Linked DNA regions of Homo sapiens: region 1 is linked to region 2. A link means that fine-mapping ties the variant in region 2 to the expression of a gene that starts in the linked region. Tissue or cell type: rectum. Region 2 holds a variant in brackets; the other region holds the start of a gene. All regions are shown on one strand. Distances are between the middles of the regions.

What was found. PIP is the estimated chance that this variant, and not a neighbour inherited with it, causes the effect.
Region 1: HNRNPH1 starts here. The variant in region 2 is fine-mapped to the expression of HNRNPH1 in rectum (CEDAR, PIP 0.95).

Annotation. Positions count from the first base shown.
Region 1 is chr5:179,620,267-179,628,367 of GRCh38, reverse strand. It overlaps HNRNPH1 (heterogeneous nuclear ribonucleoprotein H1), which reads left to right and starts at 4,697. Exons shown (of 14, transcript NM_001257293.2): 1 at 4,697-4,773; 2 at 5,204-5,331; 3 at 6,971-7,126; 4 at 7,333-7,476. The coding sequence starts at 5,235. The region is part of intron 4 of LOC128966623 (a long non-coding RNA gene); the gene reads right to left. RefSeq lists enhancers at 3,086-3,870, 3,871-4,656, 4,406-4,700, 4,756-4,925.
Region 2 is chr5:179,579,550-179,587,650 of GRCh38, reverse strand. It overlaps RUFY1 (RUN and FYVE domain containing 1), which reads right to left. Exons shown (of 18, transcript NM_025158.5): 7 at 6,639-6,704; 8 at 1,786-1,855. The region is part of intron 4 of LOC128966623 (a long non-coding RNA gene); the gene reads right to left. Among named protein-coding and RNA genes, the nearest start is that of RUFY1-AS1, 20 kb to the left of the region's middle. The variant ATT/T (reference allele first, on the strand shown) is at 4,238.

The sequences.
Region 1 (8,101 bases), 41 kb before region 2:
AAATAAATAAATACAAATTTTTAAAAAAGCAGAAGAAAATAAATAAAACACATTCCTATCTTATTGAGGCTAAGCTGTACAAAATGTGTCTTACAAATGATACTAAAGATAACAAATATGTGCTCAATCTCTGGATGGGAAAGGGCTTTCTAAACTTAAAGACAAACCTCAAAGGAACATATCCATGGCTTTGACATCAAGAAATTTAAAACTTCTATATGTCCAAATATTAAAAAGCAATCATAGGCCGGGTGCAGTGGCTCACACCTGTAATCACAGCACTTTGGGAGGCTAAGGTGGATGGATCACTTGAGGTTCGGAGTTCCAGATCAACCTGGCCAACATGGTGAAACCCCATCTCTACTAAAAATACAAAAATTAGCCGGGTGTGATGGTGCATGCCTGTAATCACAGCTATTTGGTATTTTTTTCCTTTTTTTTTTTTTGCAATGGAATCTCCCTCTGTTGCCCAGGCTGGAGTACAGTGGCAGGATCTCTGCTCACTGCAACCTCCACATCCTGGGTTCAAGTGATTCTCCTGCCTCAGCCTCCCAAGTAGCTGGGATTACAGGCGCCCACCACCATGCCCGGCTAATTTTTGTATTTTTGGTAGAGACAGGGTTTCACCATGTTGGCCAACATGTCTGAAACTCCTGACATCAAGTTATCCACCCACCTCAGCCTCCCAAAGTGCTGGGATTACAAGTGTGAGCCATTGCACCTGGCATATCCCAGCAATTTGGGAGATTGAGGCACAAGAATTGCTTGAACCCGGGAGGTGGAGGTTGCAGTGAGCCGAGATCACATACCTGCACTCCAACCTGAGTGACGAAGTGAGACCCTGTCTTAAAAAAAAAAAAGGCATAAATCAGGGCCGAGCATCATGGCTCACATGTAGAATAATCCCAGGGCTTTGAGAGGCCAAGGTGGGAGAATTGCTTGACGCCAGGAATTCAAGACTAGCCTGGGCAACATAGTGAGACCCCCATCACTACAAAAAAAAAAAAAATTAGTCGGGCCTGGTTGAAAGTGCCTTTAGTCCCAGCTACTCAGGAGGCTGAGCTTGGAGGATGGCTTGAGCCCAGGAGTTCAAGGCTGCAGTGAGTTATGATTGTGTCACTGCACGGAACAAGACATTGTCTGTAAAACAAACAAAAAATACCACCACAAAACCACAAAAATAATTAAAAGGTAAGCAAACTGAGAAGAATGTCTGGGGCAACTATCCTAAGGGCTAACAGCCTTAATAAAGAGCTCTGTAAACTGTAAGAAGTATACGAAGACATTAGCCGGGCGCAGTGGCTCACACCTATAATCCCAGCACTTTGGGAGCCCGAGGTGGGCGGATCATGAGGTTAGGAGATCGAGACCATCCTGGCTAACACGGTGAAACCCCGTCTCTAGTAAAAATACAAGAAAATTAGCTGGGCGTGGTGGCGGGCGCCTGTCGTCCCAGCTACTCTACTCGGGAGGCTGAGGCAGGAGAATGGTGTGAACCTGGGAGGCGGAGCTTGCAGTGAGCGGAGATCGCGCCATTGTACTCCAGCCTGGGCGACAGAGCGAGACTCCGTCTCAAAAAAAAAAAAAAAAAGAAGTATACCAAGACATAAAGACCACTGAGGCAAGATGATGAATTTTTTTTTTTTTTTTTAAAGACAGAGTCCTGCTCTGTTGCCCAGGCAGGAGTGCAGTGGTGCAATCTCTGCTCACTGCAACCTCCACCTCCCAGGTTCAAGTGATTCTCCTGCCTCAGCCTCCTGAGTAGCTGGGATTACAGGCACGCGACACCATGCCCGGCTACTTTTTGTATTTTTAGTAGAGACGGGGTTTCACCATGTTGGTCAGGCTGGTCTCTAACTCCTGAACTCTTGATCCACCTGCCTCGGCCTCCCAAAGTGCTGGGATTACAGGCATGAGCCCCACGCGTGGGCTGATGATTAACTTTTTATTTAAAAAAACCTTTGGCCGAGCATGGTGGCTCATGCTTGTAATCTCAGTACTTTGGGAGGCCGAGGCAGGCAGATCACTTGAGGTCAGGAGTTCCAGACCAGCCTGGCCAACATGGCAAAACCCCATCTCAACTAAAACTTAAAAAAAAGTAGCCAGGTGTGGTGGCACACACCTGTAATCCCTCTACTTGGGAGGCTAAGGCATGAGAATTGCTTGAACCTAGGAGGCAGAGGTTGCAGTGAGCCAAGATTGCACCACTGTACTCCAGCCTGGGTGACAGAGTTAGACTGTCTCAAAAACAAAACCAAACAAAAAAACCTTTCATTGCCAGCCATGGTGGCTCACACCTGTAATCCCAGCACTTTCTCTGCGAGGCTGAGGTGGAATGATTCCTTGAGCCCAAGAATTCAAGACCAGCCTGGGCAACAAAATGAGACCCCATTGCTACAAAAAATAAATAAATAAATAAATAAATAAATAAATAATCTGAGCAAGGTGGCACATGCCTGTGGTCCTACCTACTCAGGAGGCTGAGGCAGGAGGATTGTTTGAGCCCAGAAGGTAGAGGCTGTGGTGAGCCATGTTTGCACCACTGCACTCCAGCCTGGGTGACGGGCTGTGTCTCAAACAAACAAATAAAAAATAAAAATTTAAAAACCTTGTTTTAATATAAGTTGGACAATTTATATATAAGAGAATTGGCTATAAGTGTATGAAATGTATTCTACCTTACTACTATTCTTTTTTTTTTTTTTTTTGAGACGGAGTTTTGCTCTTATTGCCCAGGCTGGAGTGCAATGGCGTGATCTCAGCTGACTGCAACTGCTGCCTCCTGGGTTTAAGTGATTCTCCTGCCTCAGTCTTGCCAAGTGGTTGGGATTACAGGCATGCATCACCATGCCTGGCTAATTTTTTTTTTTTTTTTTTTTTGAGAGGGAGTCTTTGTAGCCCAGGCTGGAGGGCAGTGGTGTGATCTCAGCTCACTGCTTCCTCTGCCTCCTGGGTTCAGGTGATTCTCCTGCCTCAGCCTCCAGAGTAGCTGGGATTACAGGCGTGTGCATGCATAGATAATTTTTGTATCTTTAGTAGAGATGGGGTTTCACCATGTTGGCCAAGCTGGTCTGAAACTCCTGATCTCAAGTGATCTGCCTGCCTCGGCCTCCCAAAATGCTGGTATTACACGAGTGAGCCACCGCACCTGGCCGGACTCTCTTCTTGATTACCTCAGCCAAAGTGCCTTCTGAAATGGTACCACAGGTGTGTGCTTCTAGTTCAGTTTGTAGTAGAGGGCCTGGTATGTACCGTCATTCACCCTGCCTGCTCCATCTGCATCCCCCTCACATCCAGCAAGAGTTTTCCTTTACACAGGGTTTACGGCTCCCCTGCTGATCACCTGCCAAAGCCTTCTCTCGGAGATAACACCCTTGCCAAGGCCTAAGTGGCCTTTGAAGATCAGGCCCTGCTTAGCTCTGGGCTCCTGTCTTTCTTTTGATGTCCTCTCTACTTTTTCTCAAACCTGTCAAAACTGGATTCGGACTCTGTGGCACTGGGGTTGGAAACATGCTTTGTCCGCATCTTCCCAGGGTGGCACTCAGGCTTGCACTAGCTAAGGTAGCTCTGCGGCAGGGTCCAGCACTACCTTATTGTTAATTTGTGTATTGTCTGTGTCCACTAAAGCTGGGGTGAGGAAGGCAGCCAAATCAGACATGGGGAGGCCTGGGAGGCTACGGCATCTTAGGTTTTGGGCAGTGCTGCTAGAAACCACGAACATTAGTCATCTCGCAGCATGTGTGCACATGGGGTGACCCGGGGGCCTCCTCGAATGCAGCGTCTACGCCTGGTGAATGGACGCACTCTTACCAATTCTGCTCTGGGAGATGCAGCGGTAACCTACCGAGCGCAGAGGCCGGCGCGCACCCGTGGAGCCCGCGCTCGCGATCCCTCCTCGTGCCAGGGCCCCAGGGCAGTCAAGGCCTGCCGACCGTTAGGCGGGTCAAGGGGTACACAGGGTGCGAATTCGTTAGGCAAAAGCTGGGTACAGGCGCGAGCCACAGGCACGGAAACCTCGCGCCGACCGGGGCCCTAGGCCCGACGACGGCAGGTAAGGGGAAGTGGAGGCACACAGGGCTGGGACGTGCCCCAGGCACCATACGGGTGGCTTCGGGCGCGGGACGTCCGCAGCCCCGCAGCTCCCAGGACGTTCGACAATCTGCAGCTGACCAGCTTCGGCCGGTTTGGGGATAAAGGGAAGACAGGCGGCGCGGGGAGTGGGAACGCCTGAAGGCCGCGCCCCTCCTTTCAGGTCGGCCAGGAGCGCGCCGGTAAGAGCCTGGGGGCAAGGGGTAGAAAGACGCCCACCTCATCACAACCCAGAGCTCGGGACTCCTATACAGTCCCATAGGGAACAGGCGGCCGCCATTCCCCTCCCCCACGCTGGCGGGTAAGGCTAGAGAACGGTTTCAAGGAAGACGCATGCGCATGAAATAATTATAAACCGCTAGGACTCCGAAGTTCAATATTCGCGGGAAGGCGCAGGCGCAACAAAAAGCCCGGCGGGTTTATGGGTGGGGGTGCTGAGCCCAAAACCCAAGCGTGTAATAATCCGCCGGCGGGAGGTGGGCTGGCTCTTGAAATTACGCATGCGCCAGAGCTCTTTGTGACGCAACGGGGCGGTGCGGGCAGCTGGCTGCGCGTGCGCAGAACTCGCACAAGGGACCTTATTTAGGTTGCGCAGGCGCCCGCTGGCCATTTCGTCTTAGCCACGCAGAAGTCGCGTGTCTAGGTGAGTCGCGGTGGGTCCTCGCTTGCAGTTCAGCGACCACGGTGGGTACCGTTTTTGCGAGGATTGTTTGTCCCCATATCTCTGGGAGGGCCACGGGGACCTTGGCGAGCTGCAGGCTGCCGTCGAGAGCCGCGAGTGGTTCGCTGAATCTCGGCACCGCCGCTGAGGCCTGCAGGCCGCGCCGACTCTATTGTGTGAGAAGTCGGAGGAGGCGGAGCGGAAGCGGCCGCCGCCATTTCCTTTCCTCTACGCTGGCTCTCGGCCCGGGCCCCCACGGTTCGGGGCGCCGACAGCTGTTGCTCAGGACAGCTTTGGGGGTCCGGTCGCCGGACGAGGAGGTGTTGGAGTCGCCGGGGTGGGTGCATCCGCCCGGTTTTTGCTCCGTGGGGGGGCGGTGCGGGCCCGGGCGCGCCTCGGAGGCGAAGGACAGCTTAATTGGCGCTCTCAGTTCTGGTCCTCCCCGCTTTGCAGTTTGTTTCGACGCCGGACCGCGTAAGAGACGATGATGTTGGGCACGGAAGGTGGAGAGGGATTCGTGGTGAAGGTCCGGGGCTTGCCCTGGTCTTGCTCGGCCGATGAAGTGCAGAGGTTTTTTTCTGGTGAGTTAGAACTAGGACGCGGGAGTTCGAGTTCGAGGCCGGGGCGGGCGGGCTGGCGGGCGGCCGGGCTGGGGCGGGGCGGGGCGGGGCGGGCCGGGCCGGGCCGGGCCGGGTGGGACCCGGGGCGCCCCCTGGCGAGGCGCGGGCGACTACACTCACCGCTGTGCTGCTCGCGCCCGGCGGCCCGCTGTTACGCAATGGAAATTTCGAAAGCCCCGCCCGTCCTCCTGGCCCTTGGGGGAGTGCGGCAGGTTTGGCAGACTTTGTTTTCTTTACCTATCTTTGAACACCAGCTTTTCTTTTATGGGTGTCTTTTTTTCTTTTTCTTTTGAGTTGGAGTCTCTGTCACCCAAGCTGGAGTGCAGTGGCGCGTTCTCGGCTCACTGCAACCTCCGCCTCCTGGGTTCAAGCGATTCTCCTGCCTCAGTCTCCCGAGTGTCTGGGACTAGAGGCGCGCACCGCCACGCCCGGCTAATTTTTGTATTTTTAGTAGAGACGGGGTTTCACTATTTTGGCCAGGCTGGTCTCGAACATCTGACCTCAAGTGATCCGCCCACCTCGGTTTCCCAAAATGCTGGGATTACAGGCGTGAGCCACCGCGCCTGGCCCGGGTGTCTTTTTTCGAAAGGATAAATTGGCATAGGTGGGATTTCCTCCTCAATCTTGAGAAAATGGCCGAGTGATTAGACAAATAATAGTAATGTTTTGCAATATCTTGAAGTGTAACCTCTTGTTTCCAGTTTTGGTGTTTTCTTAAAAAGGAGCATTCTTCGGAAAGTTAAAATGTCACGTCTTAATTTCAGTTTTCCTAATCAAGATTTGATAATTGAAGAGTGTTTTCTTATCTAGTTCTTAATCTGGCTCACTATACAGTTGAAGACACTGAAGCCCAGGGAAGTGTTTTTGCAGTACATAGGTTTCCTGAATATTTTCTATCAGAATGTCCTTGTTCCTATTATTAGACTGGGAAAAAGAAATTAGACTGATTAAAATTCTATTTGGATGAAATTAACAGCTTTTGGCAAGACGTTTGTAGTATTGACTTACTATCTGAATTTAGCGTTGGTAACGGAAAGCGACCTGTAAAACAAGAACCAAGTACGCTGGAAGCCGCCTTGCAGGGGGCAACACTGGGTTTGGCTTCAGCTGTGCAACTTGGAGCATTTTAGCTTGGTAACACTGATCCCCTTTCAGGTGAGTATTGGGCTTGTAATTTGAATTTGAATGAGAAACCGTAATGTGGCTACTGGTAAGGTAAAACGGATAAATGCCCCAGACCAAAACAGCTCGCAACGAAGTATGTTTGCCGTAAAGTCACACAGTCCAGGCTTGATAATCTTCTGAGAAATTGATAAAAGATGTGTGATGTAGACATGAGTAGCAAGGACTAAAGAGATAAATTCATTCTGAAACTGCTTTGAATATTGTATGTTGTTGATGGGTTGGAAATATATCACCTTAGGAATGAGTTTGTTTTTTTTTAATTGGAGTTTTAGGAGTTGGTAATATCGTGGTCAGTATATATAGGCTTCACAAGTTATGTAATTTGTAGTGGGGACATGGAATAGACATTTCATCTGTGTCACCCAGAGGTGGTTTTAGGTTTTAAATTCTGTATTAACGGTTGTTTTCTTTCCAGACTGCAAAATTCAAAATGGGGCTCAAGGTATTCGTTTCATCTACACCAGAGAAGGCAGACCAAGTGGCGAGGCTTTTGTTGAACTTGAATCAGAAGATGAAGTCAAATTGGCCCTGAAAAAAGACAGAGAAACTATGGGACACAGATATGTTGAAGGTTTGATTTACATTGCCCTAGTTACAGTAAATAAAGCATTAAACAATAGAGGTCTCACCCCTTCTGAATTTTAGGTATTTGACTGCATGGAAATGGTCATCTAAGGGAGTTTGTGGCAGCTCTTCCTAGCTTATCTAAAGACCCAGGAAGTCTGAACTTTGTTATCTAATTTTCCAAAAGTGACTAATTCTAAGCACCTCTTTCAGTATTCAAGTCAAACAACGTTGAAATGGATTGGGTGTTGAAGCATACTGGTCCAAATAGTCCTGACACGGCCAATGATGGCTTTGTACGGCTTAGAGGACTTCCCTTTGGATGTAGCAAGGAAGAAATTGTTCAGTTCTTCTCAGGTATGTAGTCATGTTTGTTGCTGAGCAGTGAGTTTTGGCTAGCTTATGGCAAGGTGATTTAATAGACGTTAAAGTTGAGTAGCTTAGGTATTTCAGTAGGTTGTAAATTGCCAATGAATTAATGTTTTCTTCCTAGAGACCTTCAAATAATTTAAGCCCATCTTAAAGGTGGAAATGAAGTACTTCCAAAATGTTAACTTTGCCTATATTTAGTATTATAGTTCAGAGTAGATCTTTCATTGAGGATTGCCCTCAACAGCTTAACTACTTTCCTCACATTGGTGTCCAGCTAAGTACCTCAAGTTAAAGGTAAGATCCCTTTACCAGCAGATCATCAGTGCGATGAATTAGGTTGTTGTAAATTATGGCAAGTGTCTGTGTTGCAAGAGACACGTATTTGGGTCATGTGACCAGAAGCATCTAATGGTCTAATTCTCTTTAATGCAAAAGTCGGTTTATGAAAGACTTGGTTTAACCTGTGTGGTATAAACTTACTGAAAATCAGATGTAGTGAGAGTAGTTTGAATGCTTGTAGTCTCAGTATCTGAAATAAGTGTTTTGAAATTGTTCCTGGGCCTAAAGTATTTGAATGTTTTTATGCTGAAGAGCTGATAAGATTGCATGT
Region 2 (8,101 bases):
AGGTGGGCAGATCACAAGGTCAGGAGATTGAGACCATCCTGGCTAACATGGTGAAATGCCATCTCTACTAAAAAAAAAAAAAAAAAAAAAATTTAGCCGGGCGTGGTGGCGGGCGCCTGTAGTCCCAGCTACTCGGGAGGCTGAGGCAGGAGAATGGCGTGAACCCGGGAGGTGGAGCTTGGGAGCTTGCAGTGAGCGGAGATCACGTCACTACTGCACTCCAGCCTGGGAGACAGAGCAAGACTCTGTCTCAAAAAAAAAAAAAAAAGAAAGAAAGAAAAAAGAAAACATAACCGAAGCTGGGCTCAGTGACTCATGTCTGTAATCCTAGCACTTTGGGAGGCCAAGGTGGGTGGGTCACTTTAGCCCAGGAGTTTGAGACCAGCCTGAACAACAAAGTGAGATCCCGTCTCTACAAAGAGTTAAAAAATTAGCCGGGTGTTGGTGGTGTGTACCTGTAGTCCCAGCTACTGGGAGGTTGAGGCAGGAGGGTCTCTTGAGCCCAGAAGTCTGAGGTTACAGTAAGCTATGACTGCGCCACTGCACTCCAGCCTGGGTGACAGAGTGAGACCCTGTCTCAAAAAGCAGAAAAACCCCACATAACTCTGCTTAGTTTCAAAAGCTCAATTGGAGCTTCATCAAAGCACGCCATCTTGACTGAGATGCAGGGAATCTGCTTGTTCTAAAATCAAACAACTCGAGTGCTCCCACGTGGCAAGTGTTGTCCTGAGCACATTTACCAGATATTCGTCTTAATCTTTGCAACAGTAAAGGATGTATTATTACCTAATTTGGAGGTGACAAAAGTGAGGCTCAACCACCGACCTGCCTGACCTGAGGCTCAAAGGCCTGCCTACCAAGGTGACTGTGAAGCCTCCAATCCTAAGTTCCATGAAGCTTCTCCCATGACACCCCCATCTGTGACACCGTCTTGAATTTCCTTCTACTCACACAAATCTGAGCTCCTTTCCTGAAGGCCTTTCAGGGCTGGCGCCTCAGGAGGGAGCAGTCAGCTTTAAGGGAGGCTTACACGGGGTCCCTCATTACAGAGATGGGCTCTGAGGCTCTCTTCTCTGCTGTAACCCACCTCCATGCCGTGGAGGTGTTCCTTCTCAAGCCCCTCTCAGAGCCCTTGTCCTTCTAGGTGGGAGGCCTGGGCAGCCGGGGACTGCTACCTGTGGAAAGCCTCAGAAGGGCTGAGCACCCCCCTCCTGCTAACAGGAGACAAGATGTGTCCAGCAAGGAGACTGCCGGGCAGCTGGCAGCAAGCTCTCTTCCTCGGCTCAGCCCTCCTTTGTCCTGTCCTTTCATTCTCTCTTCCTAGTGAGAAAGCAGAGAAAGACCGCACTGTGGGGAGGCTGGTTGCATGCTCCTGAGGCCAAAGCAGAAGGGGTGGGCTGGATACTTATTCCTTATGACAGAGTCTGTGCTTTCTGGGGCAGCAGGGAGGCACACGGCATCATGGGAAGGGCAGAAAAAGAGGAAGACACGGCACTTCCACAACACAAGCTGGGCTCTTCCAAAGAACAATTTCCTTCTATGGGATGACTTTGAGGTGATAAAATCTAAGTCACTTAGAACTGGCTCGTGATCCGCTGCAGTGTCTCACTGGGAGCCTCGGACAGAGCAGAACACAGACATTCTCCTGTCCCACGTGGGGTAGCTGGAGGCTAGCAAGTCCCCTTCCTACCAGCAGGAAGCTCTGCTATCGCAGACCGACTACACAGATTCTCTTAACCTTGGGTCATTCTGTTTTGTCTAAAAATTTCAATAAAACTTACAAACCTCTTCTTGAAGCTTTGAGTTAGTCTTTTCCAAGCCATCTATCTTGGTTTGAAGATCCCCAACTGTGCAGCTGTAGAAAATAAGAATATTAAGTAAACATAAACTTATACAAGCTGACTGTTTTCTCAATCTGTAAACAGTAAGAGAGATTCCTAGATTTCCTGTATGAAATGGAAAGGCAGAGGGTCTCCAATTAACTCAGAGAAGATGAGAATTCTAAATATACATTTGCAACATACTTTTCAATAAGTTTTGTCCCGAAAATTTAATCTTTCTTTTTTTATTTTGAGGCAAAGTCTCGCTCTGTCGCCCAGACTAGAGTGCAGTGGAGTGATCTTGGCTCACTGCAACCTCTGCCTCCCGGGTTCAAGCGATTTTCCAGCCTCAGCCTCCCGAATAGCCTAGACTACAGGTGCGTGCCACTGCACCTGGCTAATTTTTTTGTATTTTTAGTAGAGACAGGGTTTCACCATGTTGGCCAGGCTGGTCTCGAACTCCTGACCTCAGGTGAGGCTGCCCACCCTGGCCTTCCAAAGTGCTGGGACTACAGGCATGAACCACTGTGCCCGGCCTATTTCTTTTTTAGTCATCTGGAAAGAGAATTTTTTTCTCCCAACACAAATGGTGATAGAAACCAAAATGTGTTGGCAGTCATATACCTAAAGTAAAATTCATTAACAAGGTATTAGTATTTTTGGGTAGAAGGATCCAAGGTGTTTTTTGTTTGTTTGTTTTGAGACAGAGTCTTACTCTTTCGCCTAGTCTGGAGTGCAGTGGCGCGAGCTCAACTCACTGGAACCTCCACCTCCTGGGTTCAGGTGATTCTCCTGCCTCAGCCTCCCAAATAGCTGGGACCACAGGCGCCCGTCAACATGCTCGGCTAATTGTATTTTTAGTAGAGACGGGGTTTCACTGTGTTAGCCAGGATGGTCTCAATCTCCTGACCTCGTGATCTGCCTGCTTCGGCCTCCCAAAGTGCTGGGATCACAGGCGTGAGCCACTGCGCCCGGTCCCAAGGTGTTTTTAAATCCCTTTTACACCTTCCCCATTTAAAAAATATTATTTAATAACATGTACTACTTTTTTTTGTTTTTTTTTGTTTTTGAAACAGGGTCTTGCTCTGTCGCCCAGGCTGGAGTGCAGTGGTGTGATCATGGCTCACTGTAGCCTCAACCTCCAAGGCTCATGATCCTCCCACCTTGGCCTCCCACCTTGCCACCAGGCCCAGCTAATTTTTGTATTTTTTTGTAGAGGTGAGGTTTCACTATGTCACCCAGACTGATCTTGAACTCCTGGGCTCAGGTGATCCTCCTCCTGCCCCAGCCTCCCAAACTGCTGAGATTACTGGCATGAGCTTCCACACCTGGCCTCTAAGCACTTTAAATGCATCAACTCATTTAATCTTCCCCACAATTCAATGAGGTAGATCCTACTGTTAGCCCATTTTACAGACAAGGCAGCCATAATTTTATATAAAAGAATTCACTCAAGTTCACATATCTACAAAGGGGTGCTGGCATCTGAACCCAGGGAATCTGGCTCTAGAGCCTGTACTTCTGGGCAACAGGTCATGCTGCCAAAGACCAGTCCCTGTTGCCAGTGAGTGGGGGACAAAGAAATAAACTTAGCAAGGCTAATGAACCAAGGCTTAGGAACCGGGGGACAAATATAAAAATACAAAGACACAAAATGAAAAAGGGAAAAAAACCAAAAGATACAGAGGGAATGGAAAGTTTTAAGAGTATACAATTGTCAATTCTGTGCCAACTTGATAATTTAGAAAATACCCCCCAATTGTATATTTTTCTTAAAAATATAGGCCTGACGTGGTGGCTCACGCCTGTAATCCCAGCACTTTGGGAGGCCGAGGCGGGCGGATCACAACGTCAGGAGATCGAGACCATCCTGGCTAACACGGTGAAACCCCGTCTCTACTAAAATACAAAAAATTAGCTGGGCATGGTGGTGGGCGCCTGCAATCCCAGCTACTTGGGAGGCTGAGGCAGGAGAATGGCGTGAACCTGGGAGGCGAAGCTTGCAGTGAGCGGAGATCATGCCACTGCACTCCAGCCTGGGCGACAGAGCAGGACTCTGTCTCAAAAAAATAAAATAAAATAAAAAATAAAAATAAATAAAAATATAAATGACTGGCCGGGCACAGTGGCTCAACACCTGCAATCCCAGCACTTTGGGAGGCCGAGGCGGGCGGATCACGTGGTCAGGAGATCGAGACCATCCTGGCTAACACAGTGAAACCCAGTTTCTACTAAAAATACAAAAAATTAGCCAAGTGTGGTGGCAGGTGCCTGTAGTTCCAGCTACTCGAGAGGCTGAGGCAGGAGAATGGCGTGAACCTGGGAGGCGGAGCTTGCAGTGAGCCGAGATCGCGCTACTGCACTCCAGCCTGGGCGACAGAGCAAAACTCCGTCTTAAAATATATATATATATATAT[ATT/T]TATATGAGAAAAGATATATCCTCAAAAGAAAACCCAGATGAACTAAGTAAAAACTGAAAAGCTAGCAACGTATTGCCTCATAAATGCTTTCAGCTTCATAAATTTTTTTTTGAGACAGAGTCTCACTCTGTCACCCAGGCTGGAGTGCAGTGGCGCAATCTCAGCTCACCACAACCTCTGCCTCCCAGGTTCAAGTGATTCTCTTGCCTCAGCCTCGAGCAGCTGGGACTACAGATGCCCGCCACCATGCCGGTTAATTTTTGTATTTTTAGTAGAGATGGGGTTTCACCATGTTGGCCAGGTTGATCTTGAACTCCTGATCTCAGGTAATCCATCTGCCTTGGCCTCCCAAAGTGCTGGGATTACAATCGTGAGCCATCACACCTGGCTGCTTCATATTCACAAGGGGCAAATAATGCCCATGATCTAGAAGCTAGCTGTTCCCAGGCATAAGGAAAAGCTTACTAATTCATTTTGCAATGCTACATAACCCTGATATGATGGCGGAGAAAGAAAACTATAAAATTTCAGCAAGTCAGGTTTATTTTTATTTTTATTTTTATTTTTGAGATGGAGTTTCGCTCTTGTTGCCCAGGCTGGAGTGCAATGGTGCAATCTCGGCTCACTGCAACCTCCGTCTCCCGGGTCCAAGCGATTCTTCTGCCTCAGCCTCTCGAGTAACTGGGATTACAGGCACGCACCACCACGCCTGCCTAATTTTGTATTTTTAGTAGAGATGGGGTTTCCCCATGTTGGTCTCGAACTCCCAACCTCAGGTAATCCACCCACGTCGGCCTCCCAAAGTGTTGGGATTACAGGTGTGAGCCACCACACCCAACCAGGTTACATGTTAAAAGGATAATTGAATTATGAAAACTATGATCCTGGCTGGGCGAGGTGGCTCATGCCTATAACCCAGCAGTTGGGAGGCTAACCAGGGAAGATTGCTTGAGGCCAAGAGTTTGAGACCACCTTGGGCAACAAAGTGAGACCCTGTCTCTACAAAAAATACAAAAAATTAGCCAGGTGTAGTGGTGCATGCCTGTAGTTCCTGCTACTTGGGAGGCTGAGGTGGGCAAATCACCGGAGCCCAGGGAGGTGGAGGCTGCAGTGAGCCACGATTGTACCACAGCACTCCAGCCTGGGTGACAGAGTAAGACCTTGTCTCAAAAAATCATAATAAAAAATATTATGATCAAGTGGAGTTTATTCCTGTGATACAGGAATGGTCCAGTATGAAGAAGTCTATTAATAAAATACACCACATCAGTAGATTATGGGATGAAAACCATGATTACATTAACGGACACTAAAAGGTATTTTCTAAAATTTAATATCTATTTCTTATAAATACTCTCAATAAACTAGTAATCGACCAAAAAACTCTTTCAAAAAATAGCCAACATCACAGTTAAGAAGAGCCTCAGGCTGGGTGTGGTGGCTCATGCCTGTAATTCTAGCACTTTGGGTGGCTAAGGTGGGAGGATTGCTTGAGCCCAGGAGTTTGAGACCAGTCTGGGCAACATGGCGGAGCACTGTCTCTACAAAAAATACAAAAATTAGCCAGGAGGGGTGACGTGTGCTTGTAGTCCCAGCTACTTAGGAGGCTGAGGTGGGAGAATCAATTGCCTGAGCCTGGGAATTCGAGGCTACAGTGATCTGAGATCACGCCACTACACTTCAGCCTGGGCAACAGAGTGAGACCCTGTCAAAAAAAAAAAAAAGAAAAGTAAAAACAGCCCCAGAGCAATGTGTCCGTAACTGCACCGGGAGGAACATGCCAGCTTCTTCACCTGGCTTTTGGGGCCGGAGAGGTGGCCACTGTGGAGAACTGTAATGTGCAATGTACTCTCTAGAGGGGACTCAGAAAGGGAATAACATGTCTCTCCACATTCCCCACAAATACCTCCAAGGATTAGTGTTTCATGAAACACATCCACAGATTTCCAGCAAAAAAAAAAAAAAAAAAAAATCAAGATAAAGATGCCGGTGATCACTAGTACATTGCTCTGGAGGGCCTAGCCCAGTGGTTTTCAACTCTTTTTTCCTGGCCTAATGCACTGGGTGCTGTGTGCTGATTCCCAGCAGCAACAGTGCTTGCCATGAAGGGATTTCCAGCCACGTGGCTGTGGGGCGAGGAATGGAGAGTCAAGGTTTAATGTAGTTACTTCTGTGTATTATGTAACTGCAAAAAGCACAGAATAAAGATTTCCCAAGAGTTTATCAAGAAGAAATCATACTTCTTCAGTTTGTACAAATAAATGTTGCCTGAATGATGACCCTTTTGTCTTGGTTTGGAAACAAGTTATTTATAAATACGTGGCAACTCGAAGTTCCATGAAGCAATGACAGGATACCGAGTATGTAACTGTCACATTGAAAAAAAAAGGAGTCTTACCTCAAGTGCCGGTTAAGTTCTTCCACATAATTTTTTTGATCAAGGACATCAGTAATTCTTTCATGCCTTTTAAAAGGAGCATAAGAAGGAAGAACTTTTTTTTATTAATGGTTAATACTTTGTAACTGTTCCCCAATATTCCAATCACCTTGTAGAAGTACCAATGTCTTCAAGAAACCAAGAGACAGCCAGAGCTCAGTAACATCCACATCCCAGAGTACAGAGAGAAAGCCAGCCTGGGTCACAGTAGTCAGCGTCTCCAGGGCCAGGCTGCCAGGAGAGTGGGCTCCCTGCAGACCAAGGTTTCAGGATGAGCAAGCAAGGTGAAAACACCAACTTGCCACACGCAAATGGCTCGACACAACCCTTATACTACTGAAGGAAAGGAGCGCACGGGACTTTTCAAAACACGAAGCTCATCAGTCTAAAGTCTAGGCCAGTTTGGATTAAAAAAAAAAAACAAAAAAAACTGGCCAGGCGTGGTGGCTCACGCCTGTAATCCCAGCACTTTTGAAGGCCAAGGTGGGCAGATCACGAGGTCAGGAGATGGAGACCATCCTGGCTAACACGGTGAAACCCCGTCTCTACTAAAAATACAAAAAATTAGCCGGGCGTGGTGGCGGGCGCCTGTAGTCCCAGCTCCTCGGGAGGCTGAGGCAGGAGAATGGCGTGAACCCGGGAGGCGGAGCTTGCAGTGAGCCGAGATGGCGCCACTGCACTCCAGCCTGGGCGACAGAGCGAGACTCCGTCTCAAAAAAAAAAAAAAATATACACACACACACACACACACACACACACACACACACGGAATTTTTTGATTTGTTTACAAAAACGGGATATATGTACTCCTCAGCATCATACTTTCCTCATTCAATATAGTATAGTCTCATTCAATATACCAGTAGATACACTTTATTCTTTCTTACGTCTGCAAAATATACCACAGTGTGGAATATTACATATGTTCCATAATTAATTCAATTATTTCCTGACTGGTAGATACTCAGTTTATTTTCAGCTTTTGACATTAAAAGTATATTCTGTGGCTGGGTGTGGTGGCACACACCTGTAATCCCAGCACTTTGGGAGGCCGAGGTGGGCAGATCACCTGAGGCCAAGAGTTTGAGACCAGCCTGGTCAACACGGTGAAACCTCGTCTCTACTAAAAATACACACAAAAAATTAGCTGGGCGTGGTGGCATGCACCTGCAGTCCCAGCGACTCAGGGAGGCTGAGGAGGAGAACTGATTGAACTCGGGAGGCAGAGGTTGCAGTGAGCCAAGATTGTGCCACTGCACTCCAGCCTGGGCGACAGAGGGAGAGATTCCATCTCAAAAAAAAAAAAAAAAAAAAAAGAAGAAGAAAAGGGTATATTTTGTTAGGCCAGGCACAGTGGCTCATGCCTGTAATCCCAGTACTTTGGGAGGCTGAGGCAGATGGATCAGTTGAGGTCAGGAGTTTGA